Linked DNA regions of Homo sapiens. The protein of the gene in region 1 purifies or fractionates together with the protein of each later gene. This does not show direct contact. Each region holds a gene or a part of one and is shown on either strand. Other genes may lie near its edges. The genes, in order: PCDHA3, ABCB9, PIGA, TMEM59, MLYCD and ABHD6.

The links.
Region 2: the proteins of PCDHA3 (region 1) and ABCB9 purify together in Homo sapiens (affinity purification with mass spectrometry; 2 studies listed by BioGRID and IntAct, with this or other methods). This does not show direct contact.
Region 3: the proteins of PCDHA3 (region 1) and PIGA purify together in Homo sapiens (affinity purification with mass spectrometry; one large-scale study listed by BioGRID and IntAct). This does not show direct contact.
Region 4: the proteins of PCDHA3 (region 1) and TMEM59 purify together in Homo sapiens (co-immunoprecipitation; one large-scale study listed by IntAct). This does not show direct contact.
Region 5: the proteins of PCDHA3 (region 1) and MLYCD purify together in Homo sapiens (affinity purification with mass spectrometry; one large-scale study listed by BioGRID and IntAct). This does not show direct contact.
Region 6: the proteins of PCDHA3 (region 1) and ABHD6 purify together in Homo sapiens (affinity purification with mass spectrometry; 2 studies listed by BioGRID and IntAct, with this or other methods). This does not show direct contact.

Annotation. Positions count from the first base shown.
Region 1 is NC_000005.10:140,798,718-140,804,903, forward strand, and holds the start of PCDHA3 (protocadherin alpha-3 isoform 1 precursor), read left to right. Parts: upstream 1-2,339; 5' UTR 2,340-2,480; coding exon 2,481-4,874; coding exon of another isoform or gene 4,875-4,955; exon of another isoform or gene 4,956-6,186. UniProt on the Homo sapiens protein: Potential calcium-dependent cell-adhesion protein. May be involved in the establishment and maintenance of specific neuronal connections in the brain.
Region 2 is NC_000012.12:122,927,670-122,933,151, forward strand, and holds the end of ABCB9 (ABC-type oligopeptide transporter ABCB9), read right to left. Parts: intron 4,660-5,482; coding exon 4,523-4,659; intron 2,503-4,522; coding exon 2,242-2,502; 3' UTR 1,323-2,241; downstream 1-1,322. UniProt on the Homo sapiens protein: ATP-dependent low-affinity peptide transporter which translocates a broad spectrum of peptides from the cytosol to the lysosomal lumen for degradation.
Region 3 is NC_000023.11:15,327,993-15,333,488, reverse strand, and holds part of PIGA (phosphatidylinositol N-acetylglucosaminyltransferase subunit A), read left to right. Parts: intron 1-1,496; 5' UTR 1,497-1,558; coding exon 1,559-2,273; intron 2,274-2,841; exon of another isoform or gene 2,842-5,175; coding exon of another isoform or gene 5,176-5,268; intron 5,269-5,496. UniProt on the Homo sapiens protein: Catalytic subunit of the glycosylphosphatidylinositol-N-acetylglucosaminyltransferase (GPI-GnT) complex that catalyzes the transfer of N-acetylglucosamine from UDP-N-acetylglucosamine to phosphatidylinositol and participates in the first step of GPI biosynthesis.
Region 4 is NC_000001.11:54,046,705-54,050,204, forward strand, and holds part of TMEM59 (transmembrane protein 59 isoform 2 precursor), read right to left. Parts: intron 669-3,500; coding exon 563-668; intron 1-562.
Region 5 is NC_000016.10:83,912,615-83,916,114, reverse strand, and holds part of MLYCD (malonyl-CoA decarboxylase, mitochondrial), read right to left. Parts: intron 1,160-3,500; coding exon 626-1,159; 3' UTR 1-625. UniProt on the Homo sapiens protein: Catalyzes the conversion of malonyl-CoA to acetyl-CoA.
Region 6 is NC_000003.12:58,288,739-58,293,455, forward strand, and holds part of ABHD6 (monoacylglycerol lipase ABHD6), read left to right. Parts: intron 1-4,717. UniProt on the Homo sapiens protein: Lipase that preferentially hydrolysis medium-chain saturated monoacylglycerols including 2-arachidonoylglycerol. Through 2-arachidonoylglycerol degradation may regulate endocannabinoid signaling pathways.

The DNA.
Region 1 (6,186 bases):
ACTACATTTTCACTTGAAACATTTATTTTGGGTAATTATAACACTGAACTCGACAAGTAAATGTTACACTTGGAAAGAACTTTTTTAGCTTTTCCAACCAAAGGCAGATGTATTGCAATAAAATAACTGTCTTAAACGGTCCTCTACTATTTAGTTCTTAGTTATTTGCTGTTTATTCTAAATATATGTGCATATTGATAAATCATAGAAATAACTTCCACTAGTGATCTTACCTTTAGCCATTTCATAGTTAGGTCAGAATATCCATTTCCAAGTAATACTTGACCACTATGTTTCTACCATAGGTAAATGATAAGCTTCTAAAATTATATTCACATATATCCAAATCTCCAGGAGTCACAATCTGTTGCTCTATAAGTTTTTTCAAAACATTCTTATTTACATTTTTTCTTGGTTGTCTAAGTGACATCTAGGTGGTAGTAGAAATTATTCACTGATACTTTATCTACAAAATGGCTCAATCTTCTAAACTCATAGTTCCTTTAATATTACCTTTATCTCTTAATAATCAGTATGGAGTCTACTCTGCTATAAATTCTCATGTGACATTCCATTTTGCAATTAGTATAACTCTTAAAGGTACTGAAAAGTGCAGTATTACAATAAGTTGTCAAAGGCATCTCATTACTATGAAGTCCATGAAGTTTAAAAATTTTAAATTTATCTCTTATTTTCAAACTAGCTACCATCTTTAAAAATTCAGCAAAGTGGTAACTGGAATATTAATAGCTATAATTATTTCTTAGGTCCATGCTTTTCAGAAATAATGCTTAAATGTTTACTTACTTCTTCATAATATAGCACAATATAATCATTTAGAAATTATGTAAGTTTGATATTAACAAATATCATTAACTTACATTTTTATTTATCTTGCTTGAAAAAGTTAATTCAAAATATTAATTTATTTATTCATGAAAACAACAATTGATAATTTATCCTATTCTAAATATGAATGATAAAATCTGAGTAAGTTGCAGTCCTGGCTTCCATTTCATGAATACACAGGAAACAAAAGCTGAAATGAAAACTTTTCCCCTAAATATTTAAATCACATGTTTGATTTCATTTTTAAATGGTCTGGGTATAAGCAAAAATTTGTACATTATTTTATTTCTCTAAATTTGACCTCTTTCCATAAATTTTCTTTGCCCCACTTCCAAATGCGGCGAGAATTCATGCTTCTCATTGAATTCACAGATATCTTTAGAATGTTTTATTGCTTAGTGTTAAATATGTTGAGTAAATACTGGCTTATGTTCCTAGGTTACTTTTCTCCCTTCACTGTTTAGTTAAATAATCAATTCTTTCAAGTAACAACTTTTAAAAAAACTGGAATCTAGAAATTCATCAGGAGTGGAGATCATCAAAAACGTAATTACTTTATATTGTTAACATTTTAGTATATACAGGTAAATTCAAATACATAAAGAGTGTGGAAAAATTAAACCTAATATATTCTTAATTGATGTGATGTGAGTGTAACAAATATACAAATCACATTCCCACAATAGGAAACAAATTTCCTGTTTGAATTTCTCTGTAAAGGACCGACTTCTGAAATCTTTATGTAAGTTACAGTCAAGACAGTTGATGAGGCTATAGTTCTTGAAAAAGGGGCATGGGAGGGAATTACAGACATTCTACAAATTTAAAAAACCATAAATGTACATATTTTAAGAAATTAACAGTTGCTGTAATAACATAAAAGTAGATATATGTATGTTTTAATATATACAGCACACACACACTTTTAAATACTTCAACATCTCAATGTTTTGATGATCATAAATCTGAAAGGATCTGATTTTTCTATAAAATGTAACTTGGGTGGTAAAGAGGTTAATGGTAAGTTGTCTTGAATCAGATTGAAATCCCATCGTACCAAGAGATAATATCGTTTTACTTAACCTCTATGTGTTTATAAAAAGCGAATAATATTAAAACTTATTTCAGAGGATTGTGATAATTTAACGGGATAATTCCATTAAGACAAATAGAAAAGTGGCTGTCACATGGGAAATATTTCCAATAGATGTCCACTGTTAAAACAGGAATCACAATATTTTAGTGTATGTCATGAATTAGCACAATTGATAGTGAATTAGTATAAAAGTTCTAAGGAAATATTTAGATAAAATATAAGGACTTTGAGGAGTGACCGAAGGATATTACAATTGAAACTAGAAATTTTGGGAAAGTTCAAACGACATACAAGGAAAAGAAGATACGTTTACATATTTAATACTTACACGTTTAGCCACATGATGTCGCTGTCCACCACAAGGTCTTTCTCCACAAAAGAAATAACAGCGTGCATTACGTATTCAGATACTGCTTTGCTTCATCCTCTCTAAAATTTAACACCGAGGAGTTTAAGAAATGAAGATAAGGAACTCGAATTATTTTTAAACTTTGGATCAATGTAAAGGCAATCTAATATTTGGAAAATACTTGCAATGTTGTTCTCCTGGCGAGAAGATCCTGGAGCCCAGTGCCTGCTGCTTTCTCTTCTGCTCCTCGCAGCCTCGGAGGTGGGGAGCGGCCAGCTCCACTACTCCGTCTCTGAGGAGGCCAAGCATGGCACCTTCGTGGGCCGCATCGCGCAGGACCTGGGGCTGGAGCTGGCGGAGCTGGTGCCGCGCCTGTTCCGGGTGGCGTCCAAAAGACACGGGGACCTTCTGGAGGTAAATCTGCAGAATGGCATTTTGTTTGTGAATTCTCGGATAGACCGCGAGGAACTGTGCGGGCGGAGCGCGGAGTGCAGCATCCACCTGGAGGTGATCGTGGACAGGCCGCTGCAGGTTTTCCATGTGGAGGTGGAAGTGAAGGACATTAATGACAACGCGCCAGTTTTTCCAATGGCTGTAAAGAATCTGTTTATTTCCGAATCCCGACAGCCTGGCTCTCGGTTTTCGCTAGAGGGCGCATCAGATGCAGATATCGGAACAAATTCGTTGTTGACTTACAGTCTTGATTCCACTGAATATTTTACCTTGGACGTTAAAAGAAATGATGAGGAAATTAAATCCCTTGGACTCGTGTTGAAAAAAAATTTAAATCGAGAGGACACTCCTAAGCATTATTTACTAATAACAGCAATTGATGGTGGGAAACCAGAGCTCACTGGCACGACTCAACTAAAGATCACTGTTTTAGATGTAAACGACAACGCCCCAGCGTTTGAGAGGACGATCTATAAAGTCAGATTACTCGAAAATGCACCAAATGGTACCCTAGTGGTGACCGTTAACGCCACCGATTTGGATGAAGGAGTAAATAAGGATATCGCGTATTCTTTCAATACGGACATGTCAGCAGATATTCTGTCAAAATTCCATTTAGATCCAGTCAATGGACAAATCAGTGTAAAGGGTAACATAGATTTCGAGGAAAGTAAGTCATATGAAATCCAGGTAGAAGCCACGGATAAAGGAAATCCCCCAATGTCAGATCACTGCACAGTTCTACTCGAAATTGTGGACATCAATGATAATGTACCTGAGTTAGTTATTCAATCACTATCTTTACCTGTATTAGAAGACTCTCCACTTAGCACAGTCATCGCTCTGATCAGCGTGTCCGACCGCGACTCAGGAGTCAATGGACAGGTCACCTGCTCGCTGACGCCCCACGTCCCCTTCAAGCTGGTGTCCACCTTCAAGAATTACTACTCATTGGTGCTGGACAGCCCTCTGGACCGCGAGAGCGTGTCGGCCTATGAGCTGGTGGTGACTGCTCGGGACGGGGGCTCGCCTTCACTGTGGGCCACGGCCAGCGTGTCCGTGGAGGTGGCCGACGTGAACGACAATGCGCCGGCATTCTCGCAGTCCGAGTACACGGTGTTCGTGAAGGAGAACAACCCGCCGGGCTGCCACATCTTCACGGTGTCTGCGCGGGACGCGGACGCGCAGGAGAACGCCCTGGTGTCCTACTCGCTGGTGGAACGGCGGGTGGGGGAGCGCGCGCTGTCGAGCTACGTGTCGGTACACGCGGAGAGCGGCAAGGTGTACGCGCTGCAGCCGCTGGACCACGAGGAGCTAGAGCTGCTGCAGTTCCAGGTGAGTGCGCGCGATGCGGGCGTGCCGCCTCTGGGCAGCAACGTGACGCTGCAGGTGTTCGTGCTGGACGAGAACGACAACGCGCCGGCACTGCTGATGCCTCGGGTGGGTGGCATCGGTGGCGCAGTGAGCGAGCTGGTGCCGCGGTCAGTGGGTGCGGGCCACGTGGTAGCGAAGGTGCGCGCAGTGGATGCAGACTCAGGCTACAACGCGTGGCTTTCGTATGAGCTGCAGCCTGGGACCGGCGGTGCGCGCATCCCGTTTCGCGTGGGGCTGTACACGGGAGAGATCAGCACGACCCGTGCCCTGGACGAGGTGGACGCCCCGCGCCATCGCCTACTGGTGCTGGTGAAGGACCACGGTGAACCCTCATTGACCGCCACGGCCACTGTGCTGGTGTCGCTGGTGGAGAGTGGCCAGGCACCCAAGGCCTCGTCCCAGGCGTCCGCTGGCGCCACGGGCCCGGAAGCTGCACTGGTGGATGTCAACGTGTACTTGATCGTCGCCATCTGCGCGGTGTCCAGTCTGTTGGTGCTCACACTGCTGCTATATACTGCTCTGCGGTGCTCCGCGCCGCCAACCGAAGGCGACTGTGGGCCGGGCAAGCCCACGCTGGTGTGCTCCAGCGCGGTGGGGAGCTGGTCATACTCGCAGCAGAGGCAGCAGAGGGTGTGCTCTGGAGAGGGGTTGCCCAAGACCGACCTCATGGCTTTTAGCCCTAGCCTTCCTCCTTGTCCAATTAGCCGGGATAGAGAGGAGAAACAGGATGTGGACGTTGATCTCTCAGCCAAAGTGAGTAATTTTTATTTATTCTTTCCAAAATGTCTTTGTTTTTCATTCCTCAATGTTTCCACTCCTCTGGAAATACATTAATAGTTAAGTATGAATTATGTGATTCATAATTAGACTTTTCCAGTTTTGTGGTTTTGTGGTTAAAACGGTAAGATTTTTGTTGCTAATTTTTGAACCAAATCAGCAGTAAGTTATGATATCCACACTTGTAATTTTGTTTTGTTATTAGGTGCAGTAGTAGAATTATTTTATTGCTAAATGCCTGGGTATAAGACAAATATTTTTTCTTAGATGAATTGCATTATTTAGAGAATCTGACTTCGACTTGTTTTATACTTATCCCTATACAATGCTTCTTCAATATCTTTTGCCACTTTTCATTTGGACTTCCTACTACCTGTTAGTACAAATGTTACTTGCTCATTTTATGAGTTCACCTAATGCTTATAACTCCCTATTGATTATGCTTTTCCACCTTCAGTTTCAAAAATTAGATCATTACACCTGTTGTCTTTTATGGAACCTCTTTTATTCTCTTATTCACTTGTTTGGAGTCTCAATCCTTATTTTTTACTTGAATATGATTCATTTTAGGCCTTGTGCTCTAATTTGGCAATACCGTTTATTGTTTCTTGATTTCCCAGTTGGGAAAAAAATCGAGAATAACAATTGCATTTAGAATTGCATCTTTGTTCATCTTTAGTTTATCACTACTTTATTTAATACTACTTTAATAATACTACTGTATTATATGTTAAAATTTATTACTAATAACTAAAATATCAATATGAAGTGAAAATTTAATAGTTGTATAGTATATTTATATATTCATTTTAAAAGAATGTTTTAAATCTTGTTAAAAATAATTTTCAATCTGAACAATATCTTGAAAATAATTATGGTATCTAATTTTAAAACTATCCCTACTAGCAAAACTTTTTATTCATTAGTGTCTTTTGCATACCATACTAAGGATGCTAATATGAAATAAGTTTGATAAGCCAATGTTATAATGTTATTACTGGTTAACTTCTCTGAATAGCATCCTGCCTATTAATGTGTGCCATGCAATAAGTAGAAAACTCCAAATAACCAGAACCAAATGAAATTGAAGGTAGACTTTTTTCTAATCACTACCCCTACATATTTGGTTATCTCCTCTAGCAATTAGTTGGACTCCCATTTAAGTTTCCCTACCACTGGAGAGAAATAGTAACCAACTGAAACCTGGTTAATACTCATTGACAGTGTGGGAGGTCTAACACGTAAAATAGATATTTTTCTTGACTCCTCTCCTTCCCCTCACTTCCAT
Region 2 (5,482 bases), on another chromosome or scaffold:
GGAGAGGAGCTTAGACTGGAACGGGGCTGGGCTGGGGCCAGGAAGCCCCTTGCGAGGGACTTTGCAGAACAGGAATGTCCAACACTGACGCTACAAACTAGAGATGCACAGGCTGGAGACCACCTCTACACATGTGCTTGTTGGTCCTCGGTTTTGTCAAAATAATTTGAGCCAATACATAAAAAACAGCTGATCTCACATGAAAATTGGAATTTCCAACTTCTCTGGAAACATCTGAAGATATGCTAAGTCTCTGAAAACTTAACCCCCTCTGCTTCCTAAAATCAAAAAGGAAGTCCTGAGGTTAACTTCAACCAAGGTTGCAAGTTCCCCTCTGTAGCAGGCTGAGTGGTGGCCCCCAAAAGCTTCCCTTGTCAAACCCCTGAACCTGTGAAGTGACCGTATTTGGAAAAAAGGGTCTTTGCAGATGCAAAGGACCGCTAGATGAGATCAGCCCGGATTATCTAGGTGGCCTCTAAATCCAATGACAAGTGCTTTTATAAGAGAAAGACAAGGCTGGCCAGGCGCGGTGGCTCACGCCTATAATCCCAGCACTTAGGGAGGCCAAGGTGGGCAGGCCATCTGAGGTTAGGAGTTTGAGACCAGCCTGGCCAACACAGTGAAACCCATCTTTACTAAAAATACAAAAATGAGCCGGGTGTGGTGGTGGGTGCCTGTAGTCCCAGTTACTCAGGAGGCTGAGGCAGGAGAATCGCTTGAACTCGGGAGGTGGAGGTTGTAGTAAGCCAAGATTGTGCCACTGCACTCCAATCTGGGTGACAGAGCAAGGCTCTGTCTCAAAAAAAAAAAAAAAAATTGAAATACTACTCTACCAGTTGGCACAGAGCCCTCCTCCTGGGACCCCAGAGTTCTTCACAATTCAGCAAGTAAGAATAACCACCGCAGGGGTCTTCCTGTGTCCGGGCCCAAACCTCCCTGCTGATTGAGCTGTCCTCCTGGGTAATATTTCTTTACTGCATGGATTGGGGTGGGTGTCGGGTGCCTGGGCCCCGATGGAAAAGAACAGGTGGCATTTGTTGGGCCTCAGTTCAGCTGTCCCGGGAAGCACAGAGGCCCCTGGGATTTCAAGGCAACGTCTCTATCCCCCTGCGCAATCCCCGTGGAGACAGGCAGACAGGAATGTCTACACCAGAGACCCTGGGATGGGAGGAGTGCAGATGGGGCTCCCAGACACAGGGGGAGGCCCTGGACCACCCAAAGTCTCTCTGCAACTCCACCAGAGAGGGCTGAGAGGAGAGCCGTGGTCTGGTGGAAAAACCTAACTGGGCGATGAGGCAGTTGGCCCAAGTAGAAGTCAGAGGTTAGGGGTAAGAGGTAGTACACTTTATTGACCGGGTTCTCTCAACATGTTGCAACCTCTGGCAAAGCCAGATCCTGGGCTTTGCCACCATCCCATCCACCAAAGACAGAAGAGAATGCATCTCATGAACATCCACGTGGCCTCCAGACAGCAGAGCACAGGGGCGGGTGTGGGGAGGGAGGCTGCCAGCCAGGGGTGGGTGGACGAGGGGCGAAAGCGCTGGGTGCCGGGCTGGGGGCACCCCTGAGGCCCCTCCAGACCTGGCCAGCCCCTCACTCCCCCAGTTGAGGTTTCGTGTGGTTCACAGTGAGACTGGCTTAGATTGGCAGCGGGCGATGGCAGACAGATGCCCTCCACGCTCCCTACCCGCCCTGGCCAGACTCACAGAGCTGGCAAGAGGGAGAGACGGAAAATCCCGTTCCCCGTGTCTCCCTCCGGGACAGGGAAGCCCCTTCTCTGGAGGGGTAAAGGGGAGAGGCCTAGTCTCTGGACATCCCCCAGGCTACTAAGGAAGGGCCATTCACTCCTGGCTCAGAAGTTTCTAGAACATCTTGGTGAAAGTGCCCGCCATTACTCCCAATTAGAAAAAGGTTTTTGAAATCTAGGAGTTGACTGGGGTGCCTCAAACCAAACAGTAAAAACCCTGGTAAGACCTAGGTTTAAAAAGGCAGCTCTACCTTTGCTTAGGAGGCTAGGGAGGTCCGTGAAGGCGTTGGCTCAGGGCAGCAGGGGTAAGGAGTGCCCTGGGAATGGGGCAGGGACCAGGGGCAAGATGCAGGAAGCGGTGATCCATGGGACATGGCAGGTCGTCTTTCAGTGCTGCAGGCCTGGGCTCGGAGGGCAGCTGGGGGCCTCCGTGGGCACATCTGCCAGGCAGGCACCGGGTCCTCTGCCCCACCGGGAGAAGCAGGGGCCCCCCATCAGGCCTTGTGACTGCCGTTGGCTACAGGCTCGTTGTGGCCAGCTGTGAAGTCTGCGGCGGGCTGAAGCCCCAGCATCTGCCGCTGCACCAGCTTGGCGTAGAGGCCGCCCTGGGCCAGCAGCTGCTGGTGGGTGCCCTGCTGCACTACGCGGCCCTTGTCCAGCACCACAATGAGGTGCGCGTGCTCCACGGTGCTCAGCCGGTGCGCGATGATGAGTACCGTGTGCTTCTGCAGGTTGCCATGGATGGCCTGCTGGATCTGCGGGGACAGTGGGGGCCTGGCTTGCATGGCACGGACGCCCCACCCGCAACCGTGCTTCATGCCACGGCCTATGGGCTGATGCTTAACCTCTCTGAGGCTCAGTTCACAAACGATGGCCAGCTTCCTGGGTTTTTCTTAAAGGGAGACAGCTCAGGGCCAGACACAATGAGGCACCTGGTGAATGGGGGATCAGCTCTACCCTGGCCCTCCAGTCTTCTGGTCCTTCCCTTCCCCCTCCTTTTTTTTTTTTTTTTTTTTTAAGTCTTGCTGTCACCCAGGCTGGAGTGCGGTGGTGCGATCTCAGCTCACTGCAACCTCTGCCTCGTGGGTTCAATCGAGTCTCACGCCTCAGCTTCCCAAGTAGCTAGGGGATTACAGGTGCCCGCCACCATACCCAGCTAATTTTTGTATTTTTAGTAGAGACAGGGTTTCACCATGTTGGCCAGACTGGTCTCGAACACCTGACTTTGTGATCCGCCTGGCCTCGGCCTCCCAAAGTGCTGGGATTACAGGTGTGAGCCACCGCGCCTGGCCTTCCTTGTTTCTTATCTGCCTTCCCCACTGGAATGGAAACACCATGGGGACAAGGGTCTTTGTCTAGTTAGCCCACGATAACCCCAGAATGGTGCCTGGTGCCTGGTGCCTGAGAAGAGCTCAGTAACTCTCTGTGTAACAAATGAATCAATCCGCGCATAGACTGAGGTTGCTAGCCATCTGCAAATACATGACTGGGCCCACCTGACCAGTGAGAATGCGACTCAGAGGGGAAGCACTAGCTTGAGGTCACACAGTTATAAACTGTAGGACGGAGCTGCTAATCCAGGTATCCCCATTCTGTTTTTTGTTTTTGTTTGTTTGTTTGTTTTTTCAGATGGAGTCTCACTCTGTTGCCAAGGCTGGAGTGCAGTGGTGCAATCTCGGCTCATTGCAACCTCTGCTTCCCAGGTTCATGCTATTCTCCTGCCTCAGCCTCCCAAGTAGCTAGGATTACAGGCACCTGCCACCATACCTGGCGGACTTTTGTATTTTTAGTAGAGATGGAATTTCACCATGTTGGCCCGGCTGGTCTTGAACTCCTGACCTCAGGTGATCCACCCGCCTCGGCCTCCCAAAGTGCTGGGATTATAGGCATAAACCACTGCGCCCAGCCTTTTTTTTTTTTTTTTTGTAGATGGAGTCTCACTCTGTCGCCCAGGCTAGAGTGCAGTGGCACAATCTCAGCTCACTGCAACCTCCATCTCCCGGGTTCAAGTGAGTCTCCTGCCTCAGCCTCCCGAGTAGCTGGGGTTACAGGCATGCACCACCATGCCCAGCTAATTTTTGTATTTTTAGTAGAGACAGGGTTTCACTGTATTGACCAGGCTTGTCTCGAACTCCGGACCTCAAGTGATCCACCTGCCTTGGCCTCCCAAAGTGCTGGGATTATAGGCATGAGCCATCATACTGGGCCTATTTTATTTTGTTTTGTTTTGTCTGTTTGTTTGAGCCAGATGGAGTCTGGCTCTGTCGCCCAGGCTGGAGTGCAGTGGCACAATCTCGGCTGACTGCAACCTCCACTTCCCAGGTTCAAGCAATTCTCCTGCCTCAGCCTCCCAAGTAGCTGGGATTATAGGCATGTGCTACCACACCTGGCTAGTTTTTGTATTTCTAGTAGAGATGGGGTTTCACCATGTTGGCCAGGCTGGTCTGCAACTCCTGACCTCAGGTGATCCACCTGCTTCGGCCTCCCAAAGTGCTGGGATTACAGGTGTAAGCCACCACTCATGACCCAGGTCTCCCCATTCTGATGCCTTCTCTTGCCCCACACCATACAGCTCTGCCTGGAGCCTGGAGGCTGGGTCCAGAGTGGCTCCTGGCTCCCCACTCTCAACACCAGGAATTCACCAGCCCAGGAGGCTGATAGTCTGGGAGAGCTCCTGGGGCCCGTCTCTTCTCAGCATCCATCTGCTGGGCGATGGGGGCTCTGGCCACCTGGAGCCGCTCCTGCCCCCGCATTGCCCACCACCCTGTGACTCACCAGATACTCGCTCTCGGCATCCAAAGCGCTGGTGGCTTCATCCAGGATGAGGACTGGGGGGTTCCGCACCAGAGCCCGGGCCATGGCCACCCGCTGCTTCTGGCCACCTGACAGCTGGGCGCCCTTCTCCCCTGTCTCTGTATGGTGGAGGCACAGAGACAATTTAGCAATGGGTGAGGCCGGGCAGCACCGGGGAAGAGTGAGAGGCCCTGCCCTGCAGCTGTGGAAAGGGCGGGCTGGAACCCACAACTTGAAAGCTCATGAAATGATGTTCCCCCCACCCAACTCATAAGGGGCATGCAGATTAAGCCTACATGCAAATTGATAGCAAGTTACCAATTTTCACTCATTCATTTGGCAGAAACCCAAACATCTGATAGCACACAGTGCAGGTGAGGCTGCAGGGAGACAGGCCCTCACCCGTCCTCCTGGAGAAGGGGAGTTGGAGCGAGCCCCATGGCTTGAAGAGCTGCAGCAATAACCCTGGGTCTATGAGTCTGTGCAGTGCAAAGGTTGTGTGTATTCACCACAGATGTGTGGCCTGTGGCCCCGCAAGCCCACCTGGACCAATTTTCCCCATGGACCGACTTCCTCCCATGCACAACAATATAGACACAGGTCACCTGTGACCCACAGCGCTGTTATTGCAAAAAATAAAACAAATAGACTCAAATGTCCATCAATAGGAAATTGAGTCAATCAATTATTATTATTTTAGAGACAGGGTCTCACTCTCTCACCCACGCTAGAGTGCAGTAGTACAATCACTGCTTACTGTAGCCTCAAACTTCTGGGTTCAAGCAATCCTCCAGCCTCAGCCTTCTGAGTAACTGAGACTACAGGTGCATGCCACCACACCTGGCTAACTTAAAATATTTTTCTGTAGAGGTGGGGTCTCACTACATTGCCCAAGCTGTTCTCAAACCCCTGGCCTCAAGCGATCCTCTTGCCTTGGCCTCC
Region 3 (5,496 bases), on another chromosome or scaffold:
GGCTGGTCTTGAACTCCTGACCTCAGGTGATCCACCCACCTCAGCCTCCCAAAGTGCTAGGATTACAGGCGTGAGCCACCGCACCCGGCCTAAATAATCACCCTCTTTGAATAAGGAAGGAGAACATGTGTGCAGCATGTGCTCTGGTGACATTTGAAAAAGGTGCTCTCAAAAAGATAGTTCGAGCTCCGGGTGTGTTTTAGTGTAAACCACAAAGGTAATGCTAGCAAAACTTTGAGAGTAATTGAATCAGTGGCTAAGCTATAGAGCAGGGGTTGGCAAACTTTAGTAGAGGACCAGATGGTAAATATTTTCAGCTCTGTGGGTCATATGGTCTCTGTTGTAGCTACTCTGCTCTTGTAGCACAAAAGTAGCCATTCACATAAATGAATGGGCACACCTATGAGCCTATAAAACTTTACAAAAACAGGCAGTGGACCAGTATAACCGAGTTTGGATCCTGGCCTGTTTTAGTTGTCTGTTATTTTTTACCAAACCACCCCAAGACGATGTAAAACAATAGCCATTTTGGTATGTTTCATGATACTGCAGTGAGCTAGGCTCAGCTGGGTGGTTCTCTTGGTCTTGCCAGTGGTCACTAGGAGGCTGCATTTAGCTGGTAAGTTGGCTGGATGGCTGGGCCTCTGGCTCTTTCCATGTAGTCTCAGAGCTCTTCCTTCTCCATATTATCTCTTCCCTTGTCCCTCTAGCACAGTAGATGGATTCCTTACACTTTGGCTTAGGATATCTAAGAGTGCACAAGTGAAAACCACCACACCTTGGAAATCACCACACCTTTTTTAGGCCGAGGCCAAAAATTTGCACATCACTTTCACTACCTTCTATGGGCTAAACCAGGTCCAAATGCAACGGGAAGGGACTATACTATAGAAGGGCATAAATACCAGAAGACATGACCGCTAATGAATCAGACTGCTACATTGTGTTACCTCTAAGCACTGAATAACTGAACAAATTTCTTAACCCCTTTAAGCTTTAGACTTTCCATTTATAAGATGGAGTTGATAACTCATGGAGTTTTGGTGAGGCTGCAATAAGATATAGAAGAGTCTTAGCATGTAGTAGCTGATGTATAGTGGCCATTTAATAAGTATTAATAGAAGCTGGTAAAGTATAAGAGTAAAGGGGAAATATATAAATGTGTGTATGTATGTGTGTATATATACTTAATTATTGGAAGAGACTGGTTTGTTAACGTGGTAAACCATGATATGCTGTGGTGTAACAAACTTACTATTTAAAGTTACATGTAGCAGTATTTTTAGGGCAAAATTAAGACATGGTAGAACCTAGTTTTGTTGTATGTAAATGCCAAGCAAGTAAATGTCAAATGAGTAAATTGATGATTTGCTTTATTTTTAATTCTGGGGAAAGCTAACAAATTTACATTAACATTAAAACAATATCTATATCTGGATTTGTAATATGGAATGTGTTTTGTTTCTGAGCTGAGATCCTGTTTTACTCTTTTTCAGGTAATAGAGGACACATCTCTTAACTGGGTTGCTCTAAGAACTGATGTCTAAACCGTCTCAGCATGGCCTGTAGAGGAGGAGCTGGGAATGGCCACCGTGCCTCAGCTACACTCTCTCGGGTTAGCCCTGGAAGTCTTTACACATGTAGAACCCGTACCCATAATATATGCATGGTATCTGACTTTTTCTACCCAAATATGGGAGGCGTGGAAAGCCACATTTACCAGCTCTCTCAGTGCCTGATTGAAAGAGGGCATAAGGTTATAATTGTCACCCATGCTTATGGAAATCGAAAAGGCATCCGTTACCTCACCAGTGGCCTCAAAGTCTATTACTTGCCTCTGAAAGTCATGTACAACCAGTCTACAGCCACGACCCTCTTTCACAGTCTGCCATTGCTCAGGTACATATTTGTTCGGGAGAGAGTCACGATAATCCATTCACATAGTTCTTTTTCTGCTATGGCCCATGATGCTCTCTTCCACGCCAAGACAATGGGGCTTCAGACAGTCTTCACGGACCATTCCCTTTTTGGATTTGCTGATGTCAGCTCGGTGCTTACAAACAAGCTTCTAACCGTGTCTCTTTGTGATACAAACCACATCATTTGTGTGTCTTATACTAGTAAGGAAAATACTGTACTAAGAGCAGCACTGAATCCTGAAATAGTGTCCGTCATTCCTAATGCTGTAGATCCTACTGACTTCACTCCAGACCCATTTAGAAGGCATGATAGTATAACTATTGTTGTTGTCAGCAGACTTGTTTACAGAAAAGGTAATGAAATGATAGCTATAATTGCATTGTAGACTTTTTTCCCTATAGAAAGCTGTTGAATACTTGTATATAATGATTGTTTGGCTTTTCATTTTGTTTTATGGTTTTATAATGCTATAAATTATAGCAAAGAAAGTTCTAATATTGGTTTATATATCCAAGAAGAGCGATTTTTCAGGATGGTGGTGAATGCTGTCCCCCAACCTTTGATGTTTTAATGGTTACTAAAAATAAGAATAACCTGATGCTGTTAAATTTCAGATCTTTTTAAAAATTAAAACAGCCCTGCACATGTGGTAAAGAAGTAGAGGGCAGGCCGTGTACGGTGGCTCACACCTGTAATCTCAGCACTTTGGGAGGCTGAGGCAGGCAGATCACGGGGTCAGGAGGTTGAGACCATCCTGGCTAACATGGTGAAACCCTGTCTCAACTAAAAATACAAAAAATTAGCTGGGCATGGTGGCAGGCTCCTGTAGTCCCAGCTACTCCGGAGGCTGAGGCAGGAGAATGGCATGAACCTGGGAGGCGGAGCTTGCAGTGAGCAGAGATCGTGCCACTGCACTCCAGCCTGGGCGACATAACGAGACTCCGTCTCTAAAGAAAAAAAAAAGAAGTAAAGGGCAGAGCTCACAGATGGCTTTTTTCTTCTGATTGCCAAAGTAATGTCTTTTCATTGCAGATATTTTGGAAACTAAGAAAAGCACAAAGATGAAAACTAAAATCAGCTGTAACTGTATTATTCAGAGATACCCTAATGAGTATTTTGATTTATAGCTTTCCTGTCTTTTTTATGTGTACGTACATATACTGAAAATCAGTGGGCTTGCTCTGCACGTTACTGTATTGTAGCTTGCTTGTTTCATTTCATCATGTATAAGACATTAGTAACATATTGGCAGGTAAGTGATGAAGAAAAGGGGATTAGATGTCCTGGGATCAGATGATGGGTCTGTCCTGCTGTGTGATCGAGGACAAGTAGCTTAACATCTCTAAGTCTCAGTTTTTTCATTTGTGTAATGTAAGCAACATTGGGAACCTCGCAAGGGTTCAGTGATAGTTCCTATAAACTATTAGCCTAGTTTGTAACTGTCCACTATTATCAAGGAGGTTTTTGGGTTTTTTTTTTTTGAGACGGAGTCTCGCACTGTCACCCCCCGGGCTGGAGTGCAGTGACGTGATCTCAGCTCACTGCAACCTCTGCCTCCCAGGTTCAAGCGATTCTCCTGCCTCAGCCTCCCAAGTAGCTGGGATTACAGGCGCCCACCACCAAGCCCAGCTAATTTTTTGTATTTTTAGTAGAGACAAGGTTTCACTATGTTGGCCAGGCTGGTCTCAAACTCCTGACCTCGTGATCCACCTGCCCCGGCCTCCCAAAATGCTGGGATTAACAGGCGTGAGCCACTGCACCTGGCCAAGGAGGCTGTTTTTTGTACCTCTACAGCACTTAATGGACACTGCAGTTGAATGTGTGGAGGCTTGTTTACTAAAAGTCTGACACAGTCTGGTTATAAAAAACAGTGTCTTCTGAGTGCTATTTGAAAACCTGTCCACTAATCAAAAGTGTCATTTATAGTAGGGAATCATTAAAAAAAATACATAAATACATACCCCCTTAAATAGTTAATATTTGAATTAAACTCAAAATATTAATACACACTGAGTTGCCCGTAGTTTGATGTAGGATTGCAGGCTTTGAGTGCTGGGCCACTGGTTTCAGCTGCATCTTGCACACCCTCCTTCATAAAACATAATCTACCATTGCTACTTTGAGTTTCTTTTGGGTGGGGTCAGAACTTAAAGGCGTATGAACTGATATGCTTCAGGAGTTTTAATTTGTTTTCAATTTTATACAGTAGTTTAGGACACCCCTCATCTGCCAAGAACTTTTTTCTGTGACATTCCTTTATTGGATTTTTCAAACTGTTCAGCTTAGTTTTTGTGGATACTCTTTTTGTCAGTTTATATGATAATTAAATTACTCAACACGACGATAACAAGTACAACTGACATCAAACAGATGTGTGAACAAACAATTGATTCTTGACAAGCACTGAATTCAGTGGTGTGCCAGTGTGCTAGGGAGTGGCCTAAAATCTAGATGTGGGCCTTGGTCAGTTTACGTTTGGAATGGAGAATCTTGATTGACCCAGCAGTCCATTTAAGTGGAGGTTGGCAAGGAAACTTGGCCTGAACTTCATTTTCTGGTTTGAAGGCAATGACATGCTTTCATTCTTTAATCAGGAACATGTGAACCGACTGGCATTCTGTATTCTGAATTCCTCCTGGGACATTAGTGATGTGTTTTTTTGTAACTTAGGAATTGTACCTAATTTATTTTTTAACCAAATAGCATATCTTCTTGAGATGGCTAGCTGAGAAAGAGTATGACACAAGTGTGATCAAGGATCAGCAAAATTAACTACCCATGCAAAGATTAAACCTGTTACCTTTACTTCCCTAATGTGGTATTTTAACTAGCTGAGCTAACCACCAATGGAGTGATGGTATGGCCTTTCCTGTACTCAATTCAGTAATTGAACAGTTATTTATCGAACCCTCTCCAGATGCCAGGCACCCTGCAGAAAGTAACATTCTGAAAAGGAACAGCCATGCCTGTAGCCCAAAAGTGAGTAGTTGTATTAATGGTCCATTCCTTATTAACAAATTAATTTCCTCAGGAGTTTATTGGACCAGATATCAAAGTCCCACTGGAATGTCTTAAGTGAGAGAGAGGATAAATCAAAGTTTTCCTTATCCAGGCTTTTTGGATGTCTTTTTCCTGAGCCTCCTCTTCCAAGCCTGTTTTGCTCTCAGTCAGGATTTACCAGCACTCTGCATGTGTAGGCACGCTCACCTGCTTCCTTCTGTAGTGGTAATGACAACCTACATTTGTATTCTGCAGTTGATAAAGCCTGTTCGTGGTACAATACCTCATTTGACCCTCCCAACAACTGTAGGGTAGATGTTATCTACATGAAATTGAGTCTCAGAGAGGGTAAGTAACTCACCCAGGTTACACAGTAAGTAACAGAGATGACACACGAGTTCAGCTTTTCTGGAGCTAAGTTCTCCTCTTCCTCCACCCATGCCCAGCCACTCATATCCTAGGTGTAGATCAGAAGGTTCTTAAAAATATTGTTAGACTGAGCTTTAAAAGCAGTTTGGATCAGAGATTTTCATTGTCTGTTTTGTGTTCACATGGCAGTCGAAAGTCTCTAGGTTC
Region 4 (3,500 bases), on another chromosome or scaffold:
ATATTCCATTATAGTTATTTAAAAAGTTAAACGTCAATTGTGTCCTGATTATAGGTTTCTTTTGTTAAACATATTGCTTTCAGCAAAAAGAAAGAAAAGTGGTTTAACAGATGACAAAGCCTCTGGCTACTTATTTTAATGGCCTGACCAATGAATAATATGCTATTAAATACTGAGTCAAAGGCCTGATTCAGTAAAAAACTTGGAGATAAGTCGATGAACTTATGATTGAAAGGTTTAGGAAAATTATACTATCTGTGAAAAGGTAGTAATGAATTGTGAGTAGGGTAATTATACTGCATTTGTCTGACAGAATGCTTGGTTAAACAAAGGTGTCCTATTCATAGCAGAAAATAAACACTGTCTCAACAAACAGATGAAATTTAAAGCCCATGAAATTTCTAGCAGCAGCTACGAAAACTCTTAGATCCATAATAATTACAATATGTTAGATGACTAGTTTCAACAGTGTGTTTTCCATTTCCTAAAGAAAATACTTCAAAAGCTTATCACAAAGAAAACAATGTTACATACAGCTGATGTCGTTAGCATAGCATCTTACCAGATTCACATTCCAATTTAGTTCGATTTAAGTCAATTCCATCATCCACAAACTGACAAATTGAAAACAGCCTGCAACCTCTCTGACATGCGTACAACTCCTCTTCCTAGGGAGTTCAAGAACAGGAAGGGTTACCAAAAAATAGTATTTTTTTTTCCTCAGGGGAAAACAGGTTAGGAAGAAAGCAGTTAGTAAAGTTTATTACAAATCGTCCAGTAAGTTTCATAACTGAAAGAAAAAAATGATAGGAGCCAGTTGATACTCAAGACCTTTGCCATATAGAGGTTTTAGTTCCTTATTTTAAAAGTGATACGAAGAAAAAAGCCTAGTAGGTAAAACCACCACCCTTTTTCCATTTTCTTTGGTTACAATCTGTGGGGGGGAAAAATTAAAAATAAAACTAATAGTGACAGGCCAGGTGCAGTGGCTCACACCTGTAATCCCAGGGCTTTGGGAAGCTGAGGTGGGAGGACTGCTTGAGGCCAACAGTTTGAGGCCAGCCTGGACTATATAGCGAGACCCCATCTGTACCAAAACAAACACACACACAAAAATAACTGGGTATGGTAGTGCACACTTGTTGTCCTAGTACTCAGTAGGCTGAGGTGTGAGGATTGTTTGAGCCCAGGAGTTTGAGGGTACAGTGAGCTATAATCACACCACTGTACTCCAGCTTGGGGTACAAAGTGAGACCCTGTTGCTTAAAAAACAACAACAACAAAAAACACAACGGTGATATAACTAGAACTTTAACAGCGATAGGAGTAAGCAAGTACCCTAGGACCAATGGCATACTTCTGCCACATCCCTGTTTATATGAATCACCAGGCTTATCAGGAAAAGTATCAGACTAGCTTCACATGGCAAATGGTGACACAAGGGCCTGATAAAGTAAGGTATACATCTATAAAAATGTTTATATGAAGGGATTTTTTAAAACTGGGCTTACATTAAATGAAAACACAGGAGCAACAGTGTGGTGTATGGGAAAGGACACTGCAATCAGCCAGACCTAGATCAAACCTTTTGGGTGAGTGCATAAGTTATTTTACCTGTCTAAGAATCTCAGCTTTCTCATCAAAAAAGGAGAGAACAGCCATTATCTCCAAATTCCTCAATAATTTGGAAGCTATTTCCAGTATAGTGCCTGGGATGTAGAAGGTGCTTAATAAATGGTAATAGTGTTAATAGATTTTTAAAATAGAAAACAATTACAGGCATCAATGTATACGTGTGAAAGCTTAAGACAGGATGGACATCTGGTTCTTCATTACTGTAAAATATTAACTGCTTAATAAGACTAATGTCTTCAGCTGTTTTTCTTTGATAAAATAAAAGTATTTAAAAAAAGCTATTGCATATGGGGGAGCCCCCTCGACTTACTATGTGATCCACTGTGTACAAACTGGCAGACACCTAATAAGGAAACAGCATGTGCATATACCAGTTAGCAACCAATGAAATACAAGCTATGTATTTCTTTCCAGCAAAAGGATTAGTAAAATTTACGCAGCAGCAACAATCCATCAAGAAGAGATGCCTGCAGTCTAATATTAAATATACTTTATCATACAACTTTGAAGGTAGCACACTTTTGGACCTCAGTTCCAACTGCATTTACTGTTAAGATGAAATTGAAAGAATTTTAACAATTGAGATAGATTTCATATCTGAGTAGCTGTTGCAGGCTTTGTAAAACAGTTAAAGAATTATTTTATGTCTCTGGAGCACCACATATTTCCTTATATTGCACAAAGGAAGCATAAGCTCATTAGTATGAGCTATACCACATGCCATTTCATTCTCAGATATGCTTTCCTTTAATAAGTCATCCAGTACCAATTTCGGAAAACCATATGGCATGGTGAAAAGAGCCGAGGTTTCAGGAATCGGCCCTGGTTTGAAGCTCAGACTTGCCACTTATTCTGCACAACCTTTGACAAGTTACTTAATCTAATTCCTCAGTTGTAAAATAAGGACAATACTCTTACATCAATCCTAACTACTATTCATTTATTTTCTACTGCCTGTATAATTGCAGAGTGTCAATCTTCACTATTAGGAGAATTATATATTTATATCTACAATAGCATTACTACTATGTAGTACTATCTAATAGACAGACATATTTAATGAGCATCCACAATGTGCCAGGCACTGTATTAAGACTTAACAAATTATGAAACATCTGGTATGGAGCAGGCACTCAACTGGTAGCTATCAAGAATCATATCTTTATTCTAAGTATTTCATGTTATATATACAAAAATAATGATTTCAAGTAAATATTTCATGCCCTATGTATCCCAAATGACTGGCAAGTTTATATAACATGTATCTCCTCTGATTTAGGACACAATAAATAGTGCTTCCACCATATGAAATACCAGCTAAATTCATAATTAGAAGGTCCCTCAATGGTACTATTTAGGCCAGGCACCGTGGCTCATGCATGTAATCCCGACACTTTGGGAGGTCAAGACATAAGGACCCATTCAGCCCAGGAGTTTGAGACCAGCCTAGGCAACACAGCAAGACCCTGTTTCAATTATTTTAAATTAAAAAATAAATAAATAGAAGTTAAGTGATCAGCAAGGACAAACAGTAATCAAGGAGCTGGGAATAAAACCAGGTCTGTATGGTTCTAGAGACCACACTCCATTAAAAAATGACCAGGCTGGCTCTAATTAGCTTTTTTATTAACATGATTTATGTCTCTTGTTTTTTCGACCGAGATAAATTATGCAATTGCACTTCTGTAGATAAAACATAGAATAATTTAAAAATAACTATTTACAAACAGGTATTCTACTTTCTTGCAACAAATAATTAGTTCTCAAAAAGTGTCTGAGATTTCTTTTTTTTTTTTCTTTTTTTGAGATGCAGTCTTGCTCTGTCCCCCAGGCTGGAGTGCAGTGGCACAATCTTGGCTCACTGC
Region 5 (3,500 bases), on another chromosome or scaffold:
TTAAAGCCTATTATCCAACTTATGCCTCAAGCAGCAACATTTTTGTGTTCAACAATTTAACTTACTACACACACCTTGTGCAAAATCACAAACCTTCTCATACATTTATGAGCTTCAGAATGTAACTGGGAAGTGTAGCACAGCCCTTTGTCCCTCTGCATTGCATGGTGAGAAACGGCTAAAGCAACCATCGCCGCATTCTGTTTTATGAGCACAAAGGAACACCTATTCTTATCTGGGCCACGCGCCCCGGTCCTTAGGAGGATGCCAGATCCCCCTGGGATGGCAATGGCAGAGGCTGCACAGCTTCCTGAAGATGTAGGTACCACAGCACCAGCCCCGGGCAGGGAGCCAGGCCAAGGGCAACGACAGAATCTTCCGGAGACAGCACAGCAACCCACTCATTTGTGTGCACCCGCACCCACAACCGTCTTGCACTGGGTGCATGTCACGCCCAGGGTGAGGGAAGTTGAGGCCTGGCCTCACAGTGTGGACCGGCTGCGGGACAAGAACACAGTCAACTTTGGCTTTGCTTGGAAAGCTGCTTCAGATACATAACTCCCGGCCCCTCCTGAAAATGATCGTTTTCTTAGCCGGGGCCCTGTGCTTTAGGAGAGGTTTACTGTCAGAGCTTGCTGTTCTTTTGAAACTGGGCCACTAGGCTGAGGACCTGCTCAGAGGCTTTGATGATCTTGGAGCCGAGGTAGGAGGTGCTGTTGGGGCCCGTCTCCTCCAGGAAGTAGCGGTAGTTGGCCATCAGGCCGCAGGAGCCGGTGATGCCTCTGAGGCTCACATCCGCCATCCAGTTGATGCGCCACAGCACCGCCCCGTTCTGCAGGTGGAAGTTGGCCACGGGGTTCAGCGCGTAGCCGCGGTGCTTCTCTCCATACAGGTACCAGGCGCACAGCCTCATCAGCGGAGTCTGCAGCGCCCGCACCAGCTTCTCCGACTGCACCCACTCGCTGCTGCTGAGGAGGAGCTTGAGGGTCTCGTTAATGGGGCCACCTGTGATCTCCGAGATTTCCTTACATTCCGAATCTGTAAAGAGTTCATTCCTCCCATGCTCCTTCGTTTGCGAGTTCAGAAGCCCCAGAAGCCATTTGGTGAAACCAGGTATAGGTGACAGACTTGAAAACACCCCAAGGTGAGGAAACTCTCTCTGTAAAGCATGGTTGGGGTGGAAAGGAAGGCGGAGAAAACACAAATTCAGCAGGTACGTTACCAACAGAGGAGCACCTCTTAACCTACGGCTCACATGCTGCTGTGTAGCGGTCAGAGTGACATCTGATACATGTTGTTTATCTTCTTTCAAGCAGCTTTTCTTTTTTTCCTCTTAGAGTCAGGGTCTTGCTCTATTGCCCTAGCTGGAGTGCAGTGGTGTCATCATGGCTCACTGCAGCCTCCATCTCCTGGGTCCAAGCCATCCTCCTGCCTCAGCCTGCTGAGTAGCTGGGACCACAGGCTCGCGCCGCCACACCCAGCAGGAAATATTTATCAGGAACCTGATGTGTGCCAGACCCTGGAGGCATCCTGACTCCCCAAGGCAGGGCGTCTCTGTCCCCACCATCCCTTCTCATGTCGGCAAAACCGAGACTAGAGTGTTGGGGGACTTGCCTAAAACCAGACAGCTGGCCAGTGGGGAGTGGGGCTCGGTGCACTGCAGCTACTCACTGCAGGCCTTGTCTTTCCCGTACACCATGCTCCTCCCATGGCCACCTGTGAGGCCCCGGAAGCTGCTCTGCTGCTCGGCACACGAGTGGCCAGGGACTGGTGAGTGAGCGACTAGCTGCCCGGCCACACCACGGCGGGTGCAGAACGGGGTAGAGGGCGAGGAGGGGGACGCTGCGGGTATCTCTCCATATCACATGACACGGTTCAATCGTTATTGTCCCAACTAGATAGAGATCTCATGATCATTTCAAACAATCTGCTACTTTCTGATTATAAATGTAACACATGCTCACTATAGATATTTTTTGAAAAAATTAATGACAGAAGAAAATAAAACCATCACACTCCACTACATTGAGAAAACCACTCTCGACAGTCTGCTCAGATAAACTCCTGGTGTTTCTTGATGCGATTTTTGCATGGGTGAGACACTTACTTTATATTTTGCAATATGAATTTATATCGTGAGCATTTTCTCATTATCATTTAAAATTCAAAAACAGAAGATTTTAACCACAGAGTAATATAAAAAAAGCAGCCTATTATGATTTTCCTCACCATGTTCCTCTCGTTGGGCATTCGTGGTAGCTCCCGGGGTTTTTCCCCCACCCCGAACCACTGTTTTTTTTTTTTTTTTTTTGAGACTGTCTCTCCCAGGCTGGAGCGCAATGGTGCAGTCTTGGCTCACTGCAATCTCCGCCTCCTAGGTTCAAGTGATTCTCCTGCCTCGGCCTCCCGAGTAGCTGGGACTACAGGCATGCACCACCATGCCTAATTTTTATATTTTTAGTAGAGACGGGGTTTCACCACGTTCGCCAGGCTAGTCTCGAACTCCTGACCCCAGGTGATCTGCCTGCCTCGGCTGGGATTACAGGCGTGAGCCACTGCGCCCAGCTGTGTTTTGCTTTTGTAAACCCTGACGAGCGCCTCCACGCAGAGGGGCCATTTGTTCCCTTCCAGACTCCCTTTGAGGACTTCTAGGCTGGCCGCCCAGGGGCAGTTAAGCGACACCCTCAGGACAGCTGCTGGGCTAAGGCCCAACTCCCCCGAATCCCGGGATCTGCTCCTCCTCTTCCTGCCTTCCTTACCCTGATACATTTCCCCACCCCGCCCTGCTAATCACCACCCTCAGTGAAGACAGAGGAATGAGGAAACTGTGGGAATGAGCTACGGCTCATTGTTACCCGGGGGAAACATGGCGGCGTGGTAATGAAGCCCACGCCCAGCTGAATCCTGAGGGCTTCAATTAGAAATTGATTATGAATTTACTAGGAGCATGTAAACGTCCCCACTCCACACTGTCGTCCTCAAAGGAAGGCCTCTGCTGCAGCCATGTGCAGCCCCCAACACAGTGAACACCCTGCTCAGAGCCAGTCATTAGCAAACATCTAGCTACCGCACCTAATTATTAGATTCTACTCATTGGAATTTATCCAAGTCCCTGATGAGGCTGGTGGTTTTTGAAAGCCTAGGCCTGGAGTGAACATCAACATTTCTGATGTAGGATGGTTAATATGTTTTTCACAGGGCAGCAAAGAGAGGAGAGTTAGATTAAAAGCCGATGCATTTACCTTCGAGCTGTCTGGTCTCACCTCAGCACTCCCTCACAGGCCATGAGAAGGCCCAAGCTAACAGCACATCAGGTGTCAGAGGCCCTGAGAGTGTGGGCAGGGGCAGGGGGAGGACAGGCGTGGCAGGATGACTACCAGCTGTGCCATCTGGCTGGGACATTTCAGAGTGACACTTACACCAGGATGACACGTGAAATCCAGAGTGTCCTGACCAGGTCAGAACGAGGTCACCCTAGAGAGAGTTGATGACCTCAGAAT
Region 6 (4,717 bases), on another chromosome or scaffold:
AATTTATCGTCTACCTACCCTTATAGTGCATAACAGGCCCGAGACAAGGGTGAGATGAGAGAGATGTGTCATGCAGGTGCAGGGTCAGATCCTGTCTGTATTTATGATTTTGATATTTTGTTCATCATGTGCCTTTTTCCATTAATGTTTTTTTTAACATACTGCACTAAAATATTTTCTCTTAATTTATGAGTTTTTTGGCACTTAAATTTTGTGCCTTAGGCAAATGCCTCATTTGCCTCACCATAGTTTTAGCCCTGGTGTGAAGCAATGCAGGAAAAGGTTTTGATTTTTGTTTTTTGTTGGGCAGGGGGGTTGTTTGTTTGTTTGTTCTGAGACTGGTTCTTGCTCTGTCACCCAGGCTAGAATGCAGTGGCTCAATCATAGCTCACTGCAGCCTCAACCTCCTGAGCTCAAGCAATGCTCCCACCTCAGCCTCCCAGGCAGCTGGGACTACAGGCATGTGCCACCACACCCGGGTAATTTTTTATTTTTTTTATTTTTTTATTTTTTTTATTGATCATTCTTGGGTGTTTCTCACAGAGGGGGATTTGGCAGGGTCATAGGACAATAGTGGAGGGAAGGTCACCAGATAAACAAGTGAACAAAGGTCTCTGGTTTTCCTAGGCAGAGGACCCTGAGGCCTTCCGCAGTGTTTGTGTCCCTGGGTACTTGAGATTAGGGAGTGGTGATGACTCTTAACGAGCATGCTGCCTTCAGGCATCTGTTTAACAAAGCACATCTTGCACTGCCCTTAATCCATTTAACCCTGAGTGGACACAGCACATGTTTCAGAGAGCACAGGGTTGCGGGGTAAGGTCACAGATCAACAGGATCCCAAGGCAGAAGAATCTTTCTTAGTACAGAACAAAATGAAAAGTCTCCCATGTCTACCTCTTTCTACACAGACACGGCAACCATCCGATTTCTCAATCTTTTCCCCACCTTTCCCCCCTTTCTATTCCACAAAACCACCATTGTCATCATGGCCTATTCTCAATGAGCTGTTGGGCACACCTCCCAGACGGGGTGGTGGCTGGGCAGAGGGGCTCCTCACTTCCCAGTAGGGGCGGCCAGGCAGAGGCGCCCCTCACCACCCGGACAGGGCGGCTGGCCGGGTAGGGGGCTGACCCCCCCACCTCCCTCCCGGACGGGGTGGCTGGCCGGGCAGAGGGGCTCCTCACTTCCCAGTAGGGGCGGCCGGGCAGAGGCGCCCCTCACCTCCCGGACGAGGCGGCTGGCCGGGCGGGGGGCTGACCCCCCCACCTCCCTCCCGGACGGGGCGGCTGGCCGGGCGGGGGGCTGACATCCCCACCTCCCTCCCGGACGGGGCGGCTGGCCGGGCAGAGAGGCTCCTCACTTCCCAGTAGGGGCGGCCGGGCAGAGGCGCCCCTCACCTCCCGGACGGGGCGGCTGGCCGGGCGGGGGGCTGACCCCCCCACCTCCCTCCCGGACGGGGCGGCTGGCTGGGCAGAGGGGCTCCTCACTTCCCAGTAGGGGCGGCTGGGCAGAGGCGCCCCTCACCTCCCAGACGGGGCGGCTGGCCGGGCGGGGGGCTGACCCCCCCCACCTCCCTCCCGGACGGGGCGGCTGGCCTGGCGGGGGCTGACCCCCCACCTTCCTCCCGGATGGAGCGGCTGGCCGGGCAGAGGGGCTCCTCACTTCCCAGTAGGGGCGGCTGGGCAGAGGCGCCCCTCACCTACCGGATGGGGCGGCTGGCCGGGCGGGGGGCTGACCCCCCCACCTCCCTCCCGGACGGGGCGGCTGGCCTGGCAGGGGCTGACCCCCCACCTCCCTCCCGGACGGGTCGGCTGCCAGGCGGAGAGGCTCCTCACTTCCCAGACGGGGTGGCTGCCGGGCGGAGGGGCTCCTCACTTCTCAGACAGGGCGGTTGCCGGGCGGAGGGTCTCCTCCCTTCTCAGATGGGGCGGCTGGGCAGAGACGCTTCTCACCTCCCAGACGGGGTCGCGGCCGGGCAGAGGCGCTCCTCACATCCCAGACGGGCCGGCGGGGCAAAGGCGCTCTCCACATCTCAGACAATGGGCGGCCGGGCAGAGACGCTCCTCACTTCCTAGATGGGATGGCGGCCGGGAAGAGGCGCTCCTCACTTCCTAGATGGGATGGCGGCCGGGCAGAGACGCTCCTCACTTTCCAGACTGGGCAGCCAGGCAGAGGGGCTCCTCACATCCCAGACGATGGGCGGCCAGGCAGAGACGCTCCTCGCTTCCTAGATGGGGTGGCGGCCGGGCAGAGGCTGCACTCTGGGCACTTTGGGAGGCCAAGGCAGGCGGCTGGGAGGTGGAGGTTGTAGCGAGCCGAGATCACACCACTGCACTCCAGCCTGGGCACCATTGAGCACTGAGTGAACCAGACACCGTCTGCAATCCCGGCACCTCCGGAGGCCGAGGCTGGCGGATCACTCGCGGTTAGGAGCTGGAGACCAGCCTGGCCAACACAGTGAAACCCGTCTCCACCAAAAAAATACGAAAACCAGTCAGGCGTGGCAGTGTGCACCTGCAATCGCAGGCACTCGGCAGGCTGAGGCAGGAGAATCAGGCAGGGAGGTTGCAGTGAGCCGAGATGGCAGCAGTACAGTCCAGCTTCGGCTCGGCATCAGAGGGAGACCCTGGAAAGAGAGGGAGAGGGAGACCGTGGGGAGAGGGAGAGGGAGAGGGAGAGGGAGAGCAATTTTTTATTTTTTGTAGAGATGAGGTCTTACTATGTTGGCCAGGCTGGTCTCGAACTCCTGGGTTCAAGAGATCTTCCCACCTCGGCCTCCCAGAGTGCTGATATTATAGGTGTGAGCCACCACACCCAGCCCAGGAAAAGTTTTTGACCATTTATATGAATATTCTATCTAGGAAATCGCTGAAATGGTTCCCACAGATGTGCATATCTCATCAGGGGGTCGTTCAGTAGTTGCACATACCTCTGGGTGGCCATGGAGAATGATGGATTTGTAACGCTAACCAGCAAACAGTGCCAAAGCCAGCAGCTCATATGGGTATTTTTGCCTGTGAGTTGTGGTTTCTGATATCTCTCCAGGATAGACACTCAGTTTTGCCTGGGCATGATGGTGCGTACCTGTCATCCCAGCTACCTGGGGGGCACTGAGGTGGGAGGATCACTTGAGCCCGGGAGGTCAAGGCTGCAGTGAGCCATGATCGTGCCACTGCACTCCAGCCTGTGCAACAGAGCGAGACCCTGTCTCAAAAAAACAAAAAAAGACACTCAGTTGGGAGTTTCCACTTTTTCATGCTGTTTTCACCTATTGACTGCATCTGCGTTTCTTCTGAGTGTTTCCACAGTAGCTGGGTGTTATTCCTGCTCAGTGGGTTGCCGTGGCAGCCTTAGCTGTGAGTGAGTGACAAGGCAGAGGTTTCCATTTCCTTGGCTGGAATTAGCTGTTAAGCTCCCCATTAGCTGTTCCTTTTCCTGGTCCAGGGATGCCCTGCAGGACTCTTTTCCTTGACTGAGGCATCGTCTTACCTTAACTCCCCAGTGGGCAGAAAATCTTGGTTTTAATAATTTGAGTTGGTGAGAATAGAGCAAAGACACAGAAGGTGCTTGAGTTTGTTGGGGCTTTTGCTTTTGCCGTTAAGGATGGGGAGGAGGGGCCCTCTTGTCTAGGATGAATTGAAGGTAAAGGCAGCTAAGAGAAGGGGAGTGAATGCGGATCCACTTCTGAGGGAGGATGTTGGGGAAAAAGATGGAGGTGGATTGGCATAGTAGCTGGGAACCCAGAGGAAAAGGAGAGGAAATGAGTTGTTTGAAAAGGATCAGCCCTGGAAAAGTTCTGGCTTTCATGTTGGAAAAGCATTCCCCATATCTGCAGAGGTTAGAGCCAAGAAACACACAGCTCTGGGGATCCCCAGAGGACCTTCAAAGAGACCTCCAGCTGGGTGCGGTGGCTCAGGCCTGTAATCCTAGCACTTTGGGAGGCTGAGGCAGGTGGATCACCTGAGGTCAGGAGTTCGAGACCAGCCTGGCCAACGTGGTGAAACCCCATCTCTACTAGAAATACAAAAATTAGCTGGGCATGGTGGCGGGCACCTATAATCCCAGCTACTGGGGAGGCTGAGGCAGAAGATCACTTGAACCTGGGAGGCGGAGGTTGCAGTGAGTTGAGATCACGCCACTTCATTCCAGCCTGGGCGAAAGAGTGAAACTCCTTTTCAACAAATAAAGAGATACCCCCAGCTTGTGATAATTAGCCTTCCCCTCTTGCATCCTTCCTACAGCTTGGGCTGCCCTAACCAGCCACAGGGCCAGCCTGATCAAGTCACTCACCTTAACACAGCCTGTGGTTCCCCATGGTCCGTGTGGCTGTAGGAGCAGCGCCCTCCTCTCTGCCCCTTCTCCCCACCATGCCACCCCCACTGCCCATGTGCTTGGTGTCTCAGCCGCCGTGCTCCTTGGTGGCCCCTGCACTCGCCATGATCTCCCACCCTGTGCCATTCCCACATCCGTGAATGCTCCTCCCCTGTCCCCTTTCTGCTCTCCCGGGACTCAGGAACGAGGTCTTCCCTCGACCCTGCTCATCCCCTGTGCTCTCTGACTTCCCCACCATACCATAACCTCCTCAAGGGCAAGGAACGTTTGTTTTCTACCTCAGTATTGCTGACATCAGCCCAACTCCTGGCACAGAGTTGCAGAATAAAACAGGAGGCATCATGGTTACTTCCATTCAGACAGCCACAAGCCCCAACACCAAAGG